2 linked regions of the Homo sapiens genome follow. The protein of the gene in region 1 interacts with the protein of each later gene in a pairwise test. Each region holds a gene or a part of one and is shown on either strand. Other genes may lie near its edges.

The links.
Region 2: the proteins of WFDC5 (region 1) and COL8A1 interact in binary tests that used the Homo sapiens proteins (3 or more experiments, as listed by UniProt).

Annotation. Positions count from the first base shown.
Region 1 is NC_000020.11:45,108,713-45,112,226, reverse strand, and holds the end of WFDC5 (WAP four-disulfide core domain protein 5 precursor), read left to right. Parts: exon of another isoform or gene 1-1,360; coding exon of another isoform or gene 1,361-1,451; coding exon 1,452-1,592; intron 1,593-1,686; coding exon 1,687-1,827; intron 1,828-2,213; coding exon 2,214-2,218; 3' UTR 2,219-2,764; downstream 2,765-3,514.
Region 2 is NC_000003.12:99,788,403-99,795,704, reverse strand, and holds part of COL8A1 (collagen alpha-1(VIII) chain precursor), read right to left. Parts: intron 5,026-7,302; 5' UTR 5,023-5,025; coding exon 4,695-5,022; intron 1,476-4,694; coding exon 1-1,475. UniProt on the Homo sapiens protein: Macromolecular component of the subendothelium. Major component of the Descemet's membrane (basement membrane) of corneal endothelial cells. Also a component of the endothelia of blood vessels.

The sequences.
Region 1 (3,514 bases):
ATTCAGGGCTAAACCTTGGACCTCAGACAGTTTCCCAGGAACCCTCCCATCACCCCCACCACCCCAAACCCACACTTTTTCCCCCTCCCCACGCCAAGCCTCTCTTTCTCCAGCAGGGGGCAGCAATTTAATTTAAACCAACCCGATGTGACAGCTGAAGTTGACTTAGCGCACGTAGGATGTGAGCAAGGTGCCTACTTATGTGTGCAGCCAGCACCCAGGCAGGGGGCTGAGGGGGAGGGGCGGACACAGAGGTAAAGTCACAGAACCAGATCCAGCTGCCCCTCGGAACTCTTGAACATTTTCTCTGATGCTGGATTGAATTGAAGACCTGGGACCTGCTCCATCCCTACAGCTCAAAGACAGCTCAGGGTGGACACTCACAGAGGTCAGAGGGAGCCGGGCCCTGGGAGTCCTAAGCCCAGCCCATGTGGGTCTGGACAAGTCACTGCCCTTTTCAGGCCTTGATTTCCTCCTCTACATGGAGGAGGATACTGATTTCCAGCTTTGTGCATGAAATATGAACATGGCCCAAAATCCCAGCAAGAAGAATGTTAGGTAAGCTCTGGGACAGGACACTCTATACCATTCAGAGGAACGCCTCAGAGACAGAGTTAACGCCTGATCCTCGAAACCATGCCATTTGCAACAGTGATGAACGCAACGGTGCAGAAGACGTGGCCAGCTGTGGCTGTGACAGTGCACCAGGCTGGCCACTGCTGACGCACGTGCAATGCTGGGCCTCACTTCAAAACCCTTTCTTTCCAAGTCACTGAGCCCTACTGCTGTGCGCCAAGGGCTGTGATATGGACCAACGGTGAGCAAAGCTGGCAGGGTGTCTACTCTCCTCACCTCCAGCCAAGTGAGAGACACAGACAAACAGATGCAGCATCACAAACTCTGGAGGAAAGAAATGAGTGTGTGTGTGGGGGCCGGGGTGGGGGGGCGCTGACCTAGTTAATGTGGGGTCAGAGAAGTAGGGTCTTCTGAGGATGCGATGTTTCTGCTGAGTCCTAATGAGCTGACCAGGCGCATGGAGTACAGGAGAAGTGCACTAGGCAAAGGATGCGGCCCGAGCAAGAGCCCTGCAGAGAGAGCTGGCTTGGAGCAGATCAGGAGGCACTGAGTGGGAGGGCAGTAGAGGATGGGGCTAGAGAGATGGGCAGGGCCCAGACCAGGCATGGCCTTATTGGCCACAGTGGAGATGTTGGGCTTCATTTTCCCCTGTCATTTGTGCCATCTGAGTCTCAAACTAGCCCAGCTTCCCATTTCACAGCCAGAAAACTGAGGCTTGGAGTCATTATAAACAAACAAACAAACAAAAATAACAACTAGCCAAAAGACAGGCAAAAAGCAAGGGATGGAGAATTCAGTCTTGTCATTCCCAGGTCAGCGCTTATTACATAACCGTGAGCTTCCTCCAGCTGCAATATTAGGAGATTCTCTTACAGAGAAATCGGGGGGCTGCCCGCCAGATGATGGGCCCTGCCTCCTATCGGTGCCTGACCAGTGCGTGGAAGACAGCCAGTGTCCCTTGACCAGGAAGTGCTGCTACAGAGCTTGCTTCCGCCAGTGTGTCCCCAGGGTCTCTGGTAAATGCCTCCCCTCCACCTTGCTGACCATCCAAGCCCCAAGCTTCAGGGCCAGTGGGCAAGGACGGAGCTCACCCAGTTCCCTGTGTTGCAGTGAAGCTGGGCAGCTGCCCAGAGGACCAACTGCGCTGCCTCAGCCCCATGAACCACCTGTGTCACAAGGACTCAGACTGCTCGGGCAAAAAGCGATGCTGCCACAGCGCCTGCGGGCGGGATTGCCGGGATCCTGCCAGAGGTACGGCTCCTGGGTGCCCAGGGCAGGTGCCTCCCCTCTCCGAGCCCAGCTCTAATACTTTCTTCATTGCTACAAGCTTAACAGGATGCCTCCCCAGAAGTCAGGACCTCCCATGGCCAGGATTAGGAAACTGGATAGGGGTTGGAGGAGTCCTGCTAGGATGACAGAGGACCCGGGAGTCCTTGGTTCTCTTCTTGAGCTTGCTGTGGCACCTGGATGACAGCCCTAAACTGCTCTGGGCTTCTGTTTGCCCTTTTGAAGGGGGCAGAGGAATCCTGCCTTGGTGGCAACCAGAGCTGAGCTGGTGGGGCATGGATGGGAGACCAAGGCCAGAAACCAGAGCCCTATTATGGGAAGGAATTAACCCTTTCTTTCTCCCTCCTCAGGCTAATTCTGATTTAGGATCTGTGGCTCTGCACCTAAGCTGGGGACCAACGGAAAGAGTTCACGATGGGAGGCCTGGGGCCCTGCCCGCTGGACAGCACTATCTCTACCAGCGGTGGTTCCAGCCTTCTGATAATCACTGGCCTGCTGACACTTCCCTGCAACCCATCCACCCCTGGTTTCTCCTCCTGGGAGTCAAAGTCCATAGCCTGAGCTCGGAGGAAGGCCTCTGTATCACCCCAGTACTCTGCACCACTGCCATACGAGCTTCCCACCCTTCCTAACGCTTTCACACCAATCCGTACATGCTGCTTCCTCCACCAAAAATGCCCAATTCAGGCAGACCCTGACCTCTCCCTCAGGCAGCCCAACCATCCAGAATGAATATTCTTGCAGAGTTTTCCAAACATCAGTCATTCACCTCTTTCATGATTTTCACCATACCTACAAAATAGCACCATGATAGGTTGCACGCTGCCTGTACCACCATTTACTTAATGTTTTCTTTAAATGGCTCACTTTTGTATATAAATAAATTCATTTCAAAAGAAAATTGATATCACTACTATAAATGAGATCAATTACCACAAATGGAATTATGAAAACAAATGCAATGGAAACAGCTCAGTTCCATTAAAGTAAATCATGTCAGATTAAATGATATTAAATAGTGTTATTAAACTCTAGCTAGCTACAGCCACCTGCCAAGACTGAGCCTGAAGCCTGTACTCACTCTATGTTTTTGGTTTTTTGTTTTTTGAGACAGAGTCTCATCCTGTTGCCCAGGCTGGAGTGCAGTGGCACGATCTTGGTTCACTGCAACCTCCGTCTCCCGGGTTCAAGCGATTCTTCTGCCTCAGCCTCCCAAGTAGTTGAGACTATAGGTGCCCACCACCATGCCTGGCTAATTTTTGTATTTTTAGTAGAGACAGGTTTTCACCATGTTGGCCAGGCTGGTCTCAAGCTACTGGCCTCAAGTGATCCACCTGCCTCAGCCTCCCAAAGTGCTGGGATTACATATGTGAGCCACCGTGCACGGCCAGTCTATGTTTTAATCAATGAAGATTTTAAAGGGTTACAGATGCAAACATCGGCCGGGCACGGTGGCTCACGCCTGTCATACCAGCACTTTGGGAGGCTGAGGCAGGCGGATCACGAGGTCAGGAGATGGAGACCATCCTGGCTAACACGGTGAAACCCTGTCTCTACTAAAAATACAAAAAATTAACTGGGCGTGATGGCGGGCGCCTGTAGTCCCAGCTACTCGGGAGGCTAAGGCAGGAGAATGTCGTGAACCCAGGAG
Region 2 (7,302 bases), on another chromosome or scaffold:
GTAGGCATGGGGGGGTTTCACGCCATCAATTCCCAGCCCCATATCTGGCAGATACTCTCCCTGGGGTGGTGGTGTAGGGGGCATCACAGCTGGGGGTCCTGGAGGTCCTGGAGGGCCTGGGGGTCCTGGAAGGCCAGGCTGGCCTTGAGGACCAAGGGCACCAGGCTTCCCTGGGGGGCCATGAAGTCCTGCCACTCCGGGTTTCCCTATACCAGGGAACCCAGGGGGCCCTGGGAGGCCCGGCTCCCCTTTGGGGCCTGGAATCCCAGGTGGTCCAATGGGGCCACTAGGGCCCCCAATCCCTGGGATACCTGGGGGGCCCTGTAAACCCTGATCCCCTGGGATTCCTGGCTCTCCCTTAGGTCCGAGAAGCCCTGGAACACCAGGGAGTCCTGGTACACCTTTTTGCCCAGCTTCCCCCTTGGGCCCTATGGGACCTGGCAAACCCCTCATGCCAGGAGGCCCTACTTCACCAAGGAAACCTGGCTTTCCTGGGAAGCCTTGAAGCCCTGGCTCACCCTTGGGACCTGGTGGCCCCTGTGGCCCTACAATCCCACCTTCTCCTTTGGGTCCAGGAAAACCAATAGCACCTGGAGGGCCCATAGGACCTGGGATTCCAGGCAGGCCTGGCTCTCCTGGAGGACCCCCTATTCCTGGGGCACCTATTGGTCCTTTCTCCCCTCTTGGTCCAAGAGCCCCAGGAACACCTCCCATGCCCCGGTCACCTTTGGGTCCTGGGAAGCCTGGTTTCCCAATCCCTGGAAGGCCTGGGGGTCCTGGTAGCCCTGGCAGTCCTTGCTCCCCTTTGCCACCTGGAAATCCTGGCTGGCCTGGGATCCCATCCTGGCCTGGCTTTCCAATTCCGGGTATCCCAGGAGGTCCTTGAACCCCCGGTACCCCAATAGGGCCTTGTGGCCCAGGTTCTCCTGGAGCCCCTGGCTTTCCCAGGGGGCCCTGGGGCCCAGGGAAGCCTGTCACTCCTGGTTTGCCCACTCCTGGCAGTCCAACAGGGCCGGGAGGGCCGTGCATCCCTGGAGGCCCCTTTACACCTGGCGCACCTGGCATCCCGAAGCCCTTGTCTCCTTTAGGACCCCGAAGGCCTTGAGGTCCTGGTAGTCCTTTGGGTCCTCGATCACCCTTTGGTCCTGGTTGCCCTGGTAACCCTGGCCCACCTGGCTTCCCAATGCCAGGAAGTCCATGAGGCCCTGGAGGTCCTTGTGGTCCTGGGATCCCCATAGGCCCAATTTCCCCTTTCTGTCCAATTTCTCCTTTTGCCCCAGGCATGCCCATGGCTCCTGGCTTCCCTGGCATTCCAGGCATACCTGGCTTTCCAACTCCTGGATATCCCTGTGGCCCTGGTTTTCCTTTAATTCCAGGTATCCCATGACCTGGCAAACCAGGGGGCCCAGGTGGTCCTCTTGGGCCAGGCTCTCCACGGGGACCTTGTTCCCCTCGTAAACTGGCTAATGGTATTTCTACTGGGAAGAGAAGAGAGAGAAGGGGTATGGGGGGAGAGAGAGAGATTGATTAGTAGATTGTCTCTCACATCAATGAAGTACTGACAACCATTATTTAGTTCTGACACATTTGCCTAATACTTATCAAGAGAAAAGACTAGGAATAATATGCTCATCTTCTAGACCTTAAAAATCAGGCCTGGCATGGTGGCTCGTGCCTGTAATCCTACAACTTTGGGAGGCCCAGGCAGATGCATCACCTGAAGTCAGGAGTTCGAGACCAGCTTGGCCAACACAGTGAAACCGCGTCTCTACTAAAAATACAAAAATTAGCCGGGTGTGGTGGCACATGCCTGTAGTCCCAGCTACTTGGGAGGCTGAGGCAGGAGAATCACTTGAACCCAGGAGGCAGAGGTTGCAGTGAGCTGAGATCACACCACTGCACTCCAGCCTGGGTGAAAGAGCGAAACTCCATCTCCAAAAGGAAAAAAATAAATAAATAAGAAAGAAAAATCAAGCTGACAATTTTTTTTTATGTATTTGAGGTATTTTTTTGATAACTGATATGTGAAGCTGCTTGTATCAACATTGGTTAAGTAAAGAAGCTAAAAAGTAATGAAGAAGAAACATTTTTCCAAGTATAAAACTTGGAGATATTATGGTGTGTTTATTATAGTGAATTTGGAAGATTCAAAGATGTATAAAGAAAAATCAAATTTGCCTATAAGCCCACTACTCAGAGATAACCACTTAACATGTATATATATTTTCATCTCATTTGTTCTATCTGTGTGTGTGTGTGTGTGTGTGTATTTTAAACAATATTGGAGTTGTTATCCAAATTATAGTTGTATTTTATTTATGGGGTACAAAGTGATACTATGATTCATGAATACAATGTGGAATAATTAAATCAAGCTAAATATATCTATCACTTCAAATACTTATTTTTATCTCGTGAGAAATTTGAAATTTACTCTTTCAGTGATTTTGAAGTGTGTAATACATTATTATTAACTATACTCGCTATTCTATGCAATAGATATCCAAAAAACAACTTATTTCTCCTGCCTAACTGAGGCTTTAAACCTTTCATCATCATCTCTCCATTCTCTCCCTCCTGCCCCACCCCAAGGCCTCTGGTAACCACCATTCTCCTCTGGGTTTCTATGAGTTCGATTGTTTTAGATTCCACATTTAAGAGAGAATATGCAGGATTTTTCTTCCTGTGCCTGGCAAAGTTTTTAAATATAATAATTTATGGCCAAGATATTTCCTCTTATGCTTAAATACAGTATGATGTGAAATAGGAAAGAATAGAGTTATTTTTTGTGTGGTTCAATAACATCTTTCCACATCTCTCCTTTAGAATTAGTAGATTTGCTTAATTTCTTGAAGGTGCTGTGGGATTTCCTAAGCCTCAAATATTAGTTCATTAATTTAACAAATAATTTCTCATATACAAATCTGGCTTTTAAGTAGGAGAGATGAATAAGATATTTTAGAATGATAAACAGTATGGATGAAGTCGAGAGCTTGACTTAGGAACAAGAAGCTCTGCTTATCTTTCTGGTCTTGGCGTGAGATTGTGACTGGGTCCCTTAAGCTGTCAGCATCTCTGCTTGCCTATCTGTACAGCAAGAATAAGAATAATACAGCCACACTACAAGATTAGAGAATAGATGTGAAAGGTGTCACCGTTTCTCAAATTGTTATTGAAATACACAGCACGTGCTGTTATAATGAACATGCTGTGCCTTTCAGATGAACACAACTCTGGATCTCCCATGCTGCTGGGACTAATGGATAACATGGAGAAATGAAATATATGGTCCCAATATCTTCTTGGCATAATACTTATGTCACTAGTAGCACCTTAATCCTGACCATTGTACTTTTTGCTGAGCTACTGTCAGAGAATAAAATACAAACAGAGAACTCATTTCGAGATATGAGGATCCATCAGAGTAAGTACAAGAAGTGCCAAAGGCAAGGCAAGCCATTCAATAAAGGAAGGAAAAGAAATGTCTGAGATAATCTTCTAAGTATAATACTAGCTCCTAAAGAGAAGAAAGTCAGGAATACTTTCTTTACATGAATAGATATGATTATAGTACTATTCAGGCATGCTATTTCTAACCAGCGAATTGTGTAGTTACTGTATTGAGGAGTTATCTGGGGAAGAGTAGGAGAGATGAATCAGGAATCCCTGGTGTCTAGCACAGAGCCTGGAACACACTCTGTTCTTACTGAGGATTTGTTGAATGAGCAGTTGTAGCAACTCCAATTTCCTATGGTGCTTTAGCATTTACTCAGCACTTTACTTACTATGTATGTCACTGATTCTCTCAACAATCTTATTTTACAAATGAAGAAAAATAGGCTCTGAAAGGTCAAATGACTAGGTCTCTCTCATTTCTGGCATCCAGGCATCTAGGCCTCTAAGTTCCAAATCCAGTAGTTCTCCAGAGGTGGAGCTTCCTGCCATTGTAGGGACTAGTGGGACTGGCTCCACTTCCTCAAAGGTAATTGCTGCTCTGATGCAGCAAGTACTAGGTTTCTGAGAACTCCAGACAAACCAAATGAATTTATCGTCAAGTGTCTGTCACACTGAGGGGCATTTTGTTGGTGCTAAATAAATACGCCAAGAAAGCAACAGGAGAGATTTTCAGGTGTCATCCCTAGATGCAGTCTATACTCTTAGTTTCCTTCTGTTGATCTATTGATTGACATATGTAATTAGAGTAGTATTAAGAACACTTGCACCTGTCTAATACTTAGTTCGCAAAATGCTTTCCTGTGACTTTTCTTTTAACACAGCAGGTCCTTACAACATTGCTCTCTTAGTTCAGAAGACTGACTTGTCACCTTTCTTTTTTTTCACTGCTTTAGCTCCCAGCATCTGGCCCAGAGCCTGACACAAATAGGTGCTCACTATAGATAGTTGCTGAATGTTTGAATAAATAAACAATAAGGGGATAGACTATTTGTGATTTAATATATTTTATTTCATCTGATGCTAGTTAAAATAATAAAGCAAAACATAAATGGTAGTCTTATCTGTGTCTTTAAGGCTTGAAGTTTTCAAGAATATGGTTAGAACACAGTAGGCATTTTAAAAATGCCAGTAACAAATTCTAAAACTAAAGCTTCTAAAATTTATCTTCCCCCTCTGATCCCATAATTTAGAGATTTGGAAAGCTGTTGTTTTATAACAGCCTGGGAGTATGATGTTACCTTTGCCTTTCTTGGGTACGGCTTCCTTGCCCATTCTTGGCGCCGGTTGAATTTCCTTCATATATTGGGGTAGGTGTGGATACTCTTTGCCATACTGCAAGTGGGGCATCTCCTTGCCCATGGCAAGGCCATCTTTGGCCAAAGGCATGTGAGGTACTTGCTGACCCAGGGGCTGGTATTGTGGAATTTGTGGTGGCATCTGAGGAGGAATTTGAGGTGGCAGCGGCTTGATCCCATAGTAGGCACCAGCCTGAATGAGCCTGATGGAACTCAGGGAAATGGTAAGCAGCACTCCCAGCAGCTGCAGAGGGCCAGGCAGCACAGCCATCACCTGTGGGAGGAACCAATGCACCAACTTGGTGAAACTCTGCAAGGCCAAGTGACTTGAGTTTATTTAGAGATAGAATGGGGAAAAAAAAGGGAAACAGTCTTTAACATCAGAACTTCATGATAGAAGTCAAATGAAAAGGAAAATGCTACTTTCTATAGAAAACAAACAAACAAAAAATAGAGAATAGTGGAATCTGTCAAATAAAGGCAATTGGTAGGAACATAGACTATGGGAGAGACTACTGGTTGTCCCCCATATCGATTCTGCCTTTCTTGCCCTGTTTTCCCGTCTTCACCTGGGAATAGAGCAGCCCAGAATGAAGACATTTCAGCCAGGCAGGGCCATTTCAGCCATTCTTGCCAATTGTGTATAGTTGTCATGGGTGTACCTTCCAGGAAGAATCCTAAAAAGGAGTGGATATGTCTTCCCCTTCCTCCTTCCTTCTGGCTGGATTGCTGATATGTTACTGGAAACAGACCACACATCTTGGACCATGAGGCGAATGCAGTGCACAGAGAATGATAAAACGAGCTAGAATAAACCTCAGTCCTGGTTAGGCTTTGTTAATAAGTGCCAAAATTATATTCTAAATGGAAACAGTTGATAATTTATAGGCTTTATGCTACAGTAGAGATTTTTCATCTGCCAGATGAGGGCTGCTTTGATGTAGTCACAAATAAATGTAAATGTAAAGAGCAAACAGGAACAAAGCCTGCAGAAGTCTTCTGAGTTGAAGAGAAAATGCTTCTTCATGTAATAGTATGAAATATTTTAAAAATCACTATCATAATTATGCACCTTTATTTCTTGTATTAAAATACTATGAATTCATTAGTTTAGAAATTGGTTAATTGGACCATTAAAGTCTATCTTTGTCCTTTTGTGAAAGAAAGTTTACAAAGCAAGAGTTGTATGAATAAGAGGGAGATGTTTAACTATTAATAAGAATACGCTGCTTCTAAGCCCATTAATAGCACTCTTTACAAATTAGCAGTAAACAGAATTAATATAAATGGGGCTTATCTGTTTATAAAAACCAGCTTGAAAAGACCTCTGTTTGGAAACGCCCTAGGCTTAAAACCAGACAGCCCAGAGAAGTGCATTGTTGGCAAATGCACACTAGAGGGCAAGTGTGATACACACTTAGGTCTGTTCAATATTCTGCCTGCCCACTCCCTGCCCTCTGTAGTTCTAATGCTGGGCATACACGAACTCCATGCTCACAATGTATAAAGGGACTTAATGAAAATTTGAATCTTAAGGGACATGTCATCATAATGCTGGAGAGAGAGAGAGAGAAGTGGCAAATTTCTCACAATTTTTAATGTAAGTATCTTCTGGAAAACTTTGAAGAAACTTCTGTCTGTAAATAATTCAATTTCCATCTTCTTGAGAGTTGTTTTCTTTGCTTTTGCCTTACTTAATTCTGGATCATAGTTTTCTACTTCTTAGAAAATGTGCGTTGATTTTGCAATATCCTATTCCAGGGTAATGCCAAGAGTGTATACAGGCTACAAAAGGATTGGTTAATAAAACACCTAATAAAATATTTAAAATGAATCCCTATCACAAAATTCAAGCTTTACAATCTTTCTAAATACACTAACAAATCATTTTTTCCCTGGAAAAAATGAAGAAACAGTTGCTAGGCCCATTTTGGATTACTAAGATGAATATAATATGGCTGGTGGGCCTTACCATCAAGGAGTTTGTACTCTTAGTGGGGGTGACAGATGTGTAAACTGTTATTGAGTAGCAAAGGATATCTAGTAAAAAGTAAATTTTCCTCCTACTTCTGTTCTCCAGTATCTAAAATCCCTTATGTTTGAAGCAACAATTTTTCCTCATATTTTTCAGATAGTCTGTGGATATGCACATATCATATACATCCCTTTCAAACATAAATTGCAGTATACTATACACACTTCTATTTTTTGCTTTTTTCACTCAAAGATCAGTACTTATTCCTTGTCTAGTTATGTGCATCTAAACAAATTTCTTTAAGTTCTTCATTTATTAAAATATGACTTGGATGTTCCCTTAAGTCTTTTCTAGCTCTAACATTCAATGTCTGTAAGACAGTTACTAGAGATCTGAAAGTGTTAATCCATACCAGAAATGTGTGGTAATATCTGGTAATGTATAAGCTGGTACTTAATTCTACTTTTGGGGATGAATGAATTTAATTATGGAACCCCAGACTTGTGGTGAAGTCTTTAATAATAAGCTAGCATGTTTGGCCCTTCAGCCTTCCATCAATTCAGTGGATATGTTGGA